Linked DNA regions of Homo sapiens: region 1 is linked to region 2. The links come from fine-mapping of genetic effects on gene expression. A gene starts in region 2. The other region holds a variant in brackets. All regions are shown on one strand. Distances are from middle to middle. Region 1 overlaps ACOX3 (acyl-CoA oxidase 3, pristanoyl). Region 2 holds the start of HTRA3 (HtrA serine peptidase 3).

Region 1 (3,008 bases), 130 kb after region 2:
AGCCCATCCTCCCTGTGGGAGCTGGGCCGTTTCCCAAAGGCCTTCGGAATGGCGGAGGCCAATGTGGAGGATCCCCCCAAGCTGACCTCCATCTGCCCCTCTAATTGCATCGCCACCTTGCCATGAGGTGGTCCCACCTGCCTGTGGTGCCCCATCTGCCCCTCTAACAGCATCACCGCCTTGCCATGAGGTGGTCCTGCCTGCCTGTGGTGCCCCGTCCACCAGGTTCTCTCCTGGCCTCATGCCCTCCATGCAGTCACTGTTGACACCAGGCAGCCCTCGGCCCACCTGGGAATTCTATGCCCCACCCTGGGAAGGGTATGAGGCGGACCCCAGGGTGGGATCCCTCAACCATCAACGTTCCTGGTTCCTGGGTGAGCTAGCTGCCTCTCAGCAGTCTCCCGGGGCTCACCCCCCTCCATGAGGGGGCCACCGTGCATGGGGCCTGCCAGACTTAAGGGACGGGCACGTAAGTGGCATGGTATGAACAAGTCAGGTGGGGCAGACGACATCCTCTGAGGCACAAGGGCCAGGCCATGATCCTGACTCCCAGGACAGCCTGAGGGAAAGACACAGCGACAGTTTCCACACTACCAGGAGGAGCAAGGCCCTGGGGCCGGGTGGGGACGGGGCTGGAGCTCCTTAGGGAAACCTGGGTGACCTGGTGAGGGAAGAGCTCTCGGCTGCTTTGCCAGGCCCCTGCCCACCTGCAGGAAGTGAAGGGCAGCGGGGGGGCCAGCTCCTCCAAAGCCCTAGGCCCAGCTGCCCAGTTTGGTAGCAGCTTCCCCCATGCCACAGCCGCACACTCAGAACACCCCACCTCGTGAGAAAAACCTTGCCTCGGTGCCAATGGCCCCAGCGTGCTCCAGCCTGTTACTTGAAAGCCAAGGAATGCCTTTTCCAGTATGATCCGGTCACAGTCAGCGCCCTTTTTAAGGAGTGGAAATTATTCCCCCATTCTCACCACACAGAATATATTTATACTTGCAAAAACATTCCCGTGAGTTTCAAAGGAAAGCAAACTTCCACGAATTCTCAGGGGATCCCTTCTGTTCCACAAAAGCTATTACAGTGGTGGTCACATGTGGCCAACTCAAATACAAGCCAGATCCAGTGTCTCCAGCGGGAGACGTGTGCGTGTGTCACAGGTGTGTGTGTGCACAGCACAGGAGTTGTGTGTGTGTGTCACTGGACATGCACGTGGCACGGGAGGCCTGAGTGTGGCACAGAAACCCTCACTCCAATCCCAGAAGCGCCCAGACCTCAGCACACACCCCGCGCCCTGGACATCCTGCTTCTTATTGCAGCAGCTTCCTTCCTCCTTTGGGGCCTGGAAGGGCCCCCCAAGCCCAGCCCAGCCAAGCCGCCAGAGCAGGCC[G/A]TTGAGTTCGGCAGCCATCCTCCCAGCCACCGCCTCAGCTCAGGGCAAACGCACGAAGAAAGACCCTTAAGGTGCAGCCCACCTTAAGAGTCTGGCTGAAACTATCACTTGAGAAGATCTTTATGATTTTGCTTTTAGAGCTATTTGGCTAAAATTAATCCACACAATTTACGTTTACCTTGGATTTGTAGGCAGTCATCCCACATACTCAGGAGTTCTTGTAAAGTGACAAAATCTAACCTACAAATTGTAACCACTTTTTTCAAGATAAATGATTTCAACATTGGTAACAAAAATCACTAAATTATAATGCTGATCTTGGAAAAGACAGACATCCAGGCAGAAACTGGCTGGGAAACCCGGAGGGAACACTGGTATCACTGCGCCCCCTGCTGGGTGCCCTGCCCAGACCCTCCAGCCCTGGATGGGAAATGTGCATTTCTGGAAAGGGGCGGAGAGCAGGCCGCCTGCATCACCCCGGCTGGCTCCCATCCCAGCCCAACCTAGGCCTTCAAAGGCTCAGGGATCAAAGATGGACGAATCCCACTGCATCCCTGTCACCCTGCAGAGAGACACGGTGGAAAGGCTCTGGGGGCTCAGTGACCTGGCTTGGTGGAGCAGCTCTGAACCAGCGTCAAAGGGCGGTCGTTATTGTGTTAGTGGCGATCCTATAGGAGACCGTATTTCTGAGTCTTACAAGAGGCTTTACCATATCAGTGTGATGTATTAATCATTAATGGTTTGATCTAATGCTCCTTTGAATATTATCCCAGTAAGAGGTGTGGATTCAATCTCTAGAAATACGTTTATTAGGGGGGAACCAAGTGCAGGGTTTCTCTGCAATGTCCCAAAATAATGTCAAAGCCTCTCATTCATGAAACTGAATGAGCAGTGAAGAAGAGCCTTGCTCACACCCGAGGCCACCCACTGGATGTGACAATTCACCACCGCCATATGCCCGGGTGGAGATGCCTGTCGGGCCTTACGTGCACACATAGGACACTTCAGTAGATGGGTAACAGTGCCTGTGGCTGCAGAGCCCTGAAAGGGATCAGCCGGGTCTAATAAAAGGATGCAGATTCTCCAGAACAACACAGTGCTTCCTACACCCCATTTCCTGCACAGCGCTTCAGAGCTTCTCACCCTGAGGCCAGAGCCATCCTTCTCAAACAGACCAAGCCGCATTACATCCTCCAGATGGCTGGGGCTTCCCGCTGCCCTGAGGGCGAAGGGCCTGAACAGCGACCCTCCATACCTGCTACACGGGCACCGTCCATGCCAAGCGCCTCCCAGGCACCCTGCGAAAGTAGTCATTCAAGAGAACTGACAGCCGCAGGTCGGGGTGGCGCTCTCCTCCCTGCCAGCTCCAACATTAACTAGCAGGTTCCTTGTATTATTTTAGTATAAGCCAGTGAGAACCCAGAACTCTGCAGGACAGGTGGAGTTAGGAGGGCTGTGCATATGTGTCTTGTTTTGCTTTTTTTTTTTTTTTTTGCCTGAAATCACAAGAATTTGCTTTTTAACAATGTCCTTTTACTTTCTTCTCAAGTTGACACTGTATAAAAATCAATCAAGATTTTCCTCTTTAGTACAGTCTGGGGCCCTGCCTGTTTTAAAGGGCCAAGCAGAG
Region 2 (2,500 bases):
GGCCTGAAATTCTCCACATCTTCAAAGTAAAGTGCACTTGAGGTTTGTAGAGGCAGAAACGCAGGTGCTATTGCCCCTTGTCAAAGGGCCTTTTAGGGGGAGAAGCTCCAGGTCCCTTCTCTCCCCGTCCCCTGGGACCCTTCAACCTTTCACTCTCTCTGGGTCCTATGGGGGCTCACACTTGGCGCCCCGCCTCCTCCCACCTCATCCTCCCCAGACATCTTGTCTGATGGGGCCGCTCCCTACTCAACGCCTCCCCAGGCCTTTGAGGACCCAGGGCCCTCAGGGATCAGGCCCCTCCACCTTCCCATTCCCCGAGGCCCTTTAACCTCCAGCTCCCCCTCCCTCCTCTGGACCAGAGGTACCCCTCCCCATTCTTAACTTGGGTATCTGTGAACCTGGATGGAAAAACGTCTTTATTTACCCCAACAACTCCAACTGAAGTCCAGCATTCATTCCTTTGGGGGTGCAGTTGACCCCAGCCAGCAGGGCCTGTGGCTCCACGGCCAGCAGAAGCAGTGTTTACATCCCCATGTTACCGCCCTCACCGAAGGTGTCTCCAGTGGCAGCCCTCTGCACAGGGCTGCTGCGAAGTGTCCACTGGTATCAGACGACAGACCGACCAGAACCTGCCATTAACATGCTGATAAAGAAGCCCATAGGCCACGCTGTCATGAATTGTTTCATGTATTTTGATAACTGTGTTTTGATAGAATTGTTCCCCTTTGTGACCCCATGGTCTTTGTTTTATGCGTTTAAATCTACTTGACGACATCGTTCTGAAAAGGACACCCAGGCTTCGCCAGGCAGCCCAGGGTACTAGGAACACACACAGTGTGAAGACCGCAGCTCCAGGCTGTGCGCGCGGCGTTATCTCCTGCTGCCCCGACCTGCTTTTGCTTGGGAGCCTCTGCCCAGGTCACGGCCAGCTCCCGCTTCCCATCCTTCCTCTTCAGGCTTGACATTCACCTCCAAGGGGGGTTCTGCCTTCTCTCACAACTCCGCAGCCTTCACCCCATCAGCTGACGCACTGTCACCAGATTCTGACTCTCGTGATGGGACCTGGGTCTGAAGGGGCCCTGCAGAAAATGCAGGAGCAATGATGAGAATGGAAACAGCTTCCGGTTCCGTGGACAGCGAGGACTCGGGAACACTGCTCAGCCATGGCCTCTGTGGTTCTTCCAACGACCCTATGAGGTTGAGAAATGCTGTCAATTCCCCTTTCCTGGAGGAGGAAACTGAGGCACAGAGGAGACTGGACACGGACAGACCCCTCCAGAGCGGGGAGAACGCATCCCCCAACGTTTCTGGGATAGGCTGGGCCCGGGGGTCCCCACCAGAAAGGACCCCTGCGTGTCTGTAGCCTCGGGTTTTCTCGACCAGGCCGACCAGAGTCCCAAGGCCTGCCGGGTGGGTCCAGGCCCGGAAGGCCAGGCGGGGCCCTGTCGGGGCCTGGGCGGGGCTGGCGGAGGGGCCGGGCCGCCCCTTCCAGCGAGGGCGGGCTGGGCGGTCGCCTTTAAAGGCGCGGGACCCGCCGCCCGCGGACCGTCAGGCTGGAGGGAGCTGGTCCCTGCGCTCCCTGCGCCCTGGGGATGCCCCTGCCGCCCTGACGCCCGCCAGCCTGAGCCACCGGCGCATGTGACCGCGCGTCCGCCCCAGTCCCATCCGTAGGCGCCCGGCGCCCGGCCCCGCAGCGGCCTCGTTGTCCCCGCCGGCCCCCGCCCGGTCTCCCGCGCTGCCACCCGCCGCCGGCCCTGCCGCCATGCAGGCGCGAGCGCTGCTCCTGGCCGCGTTGGCCGCGCTGGCGCTGGCCCGGGAGCCCCCTGCGGCGCCGTGTCCCGCGCGCTGCGACGTGTCGCGGTGTCCCAGCCCCCGCTGCCCCGGCGGCTACGTGCCCGACCTCTGCAACTGCTGCCTGGTGTGCGCCGCCAGCGAGGGCGAGCCCTGTGGCGGCCCTCTGGACTCGCCTTGCGGCGAGAGCCTGGAGTGCGTGCGCGGCCTATGCCGCTGCCGCTGGTCGCACGCCGTGTGTGGCACCGACGGGCACACCTATGCCAACGTGTGCGCGCTGCAGGCGGCCAGCCGCCGCGCGCTGCAGCTCTCCGGGACGCCCGTGCGCCAGCTGCAGAAGGGCGCCTGCCCGTTGGGTAAGCGCTCGGGGGCCAGGGAGGAAGTGAAGCTTCTTTCTCTTGGGGAAACTAAGGCCGGGAGTTAGGGCCGAGCTCGAGGTCGCCCTTCCCTGGGCACCACCGGGTGGCCCTTCAGAAATCATCCCACCAGCCCTCTGGTCTTTCAGATGAAGAAACTGAGGCCCGGAAAGGTAAACCGCTGTCCCCAAGGTCACAGAATTAGAGTCAAAAGGGAAACCCGGTGGTCTCCTGGCCACCCGAGGGGCCTCATCTAGGACTGTTTCCAGCTCTGGTCTCTTCAGAACTGATGTCTCGTGCCCATTCCCTTGATCCTTGGACCCCTGCTCTGTCCGGGTATTGAGTGAAGGGCA

What was found.
Region 1: its variant is fine-mapped to the expression of HTRA3 in whole blood (TOPMed, PIP above 0.99).

What each region holds. Positions count from the first base shown.
Region 1 is chr4:8,401,581-8,404,588 of GRCh38, forward strand. All of the region lies in intron 7 of ACOX3 (acyl-CoA oxidase 3, pristanoyl), which reads right to left. Among named protein-coding and RNA genes, the nearest start is that of ACOX3, 38 kb to the right of the region's middle. RefSeq lists a silencer at 1,844-2,041. The variant G/A (reference allele first, on the strand shown) is at 1,379.
Region 2 is chr4:8,268,207-8,270,706 of GRCh38, forward strand. HTRA3 (HtrA serine peptidase 3) reads left to right here and starts at 1,548. Exons shown (of 9, transcript NM_053044.5): 1 at 1,548-2,147. The coding sequence starts at 1,763. LOC105374373 (a long non-coding RNA gene) reads right to left here and starts at 1,975. Exons shown (of 2, transcript XR_001741572.2): 1 at 1,901-1,975; 2 at 400-1,190.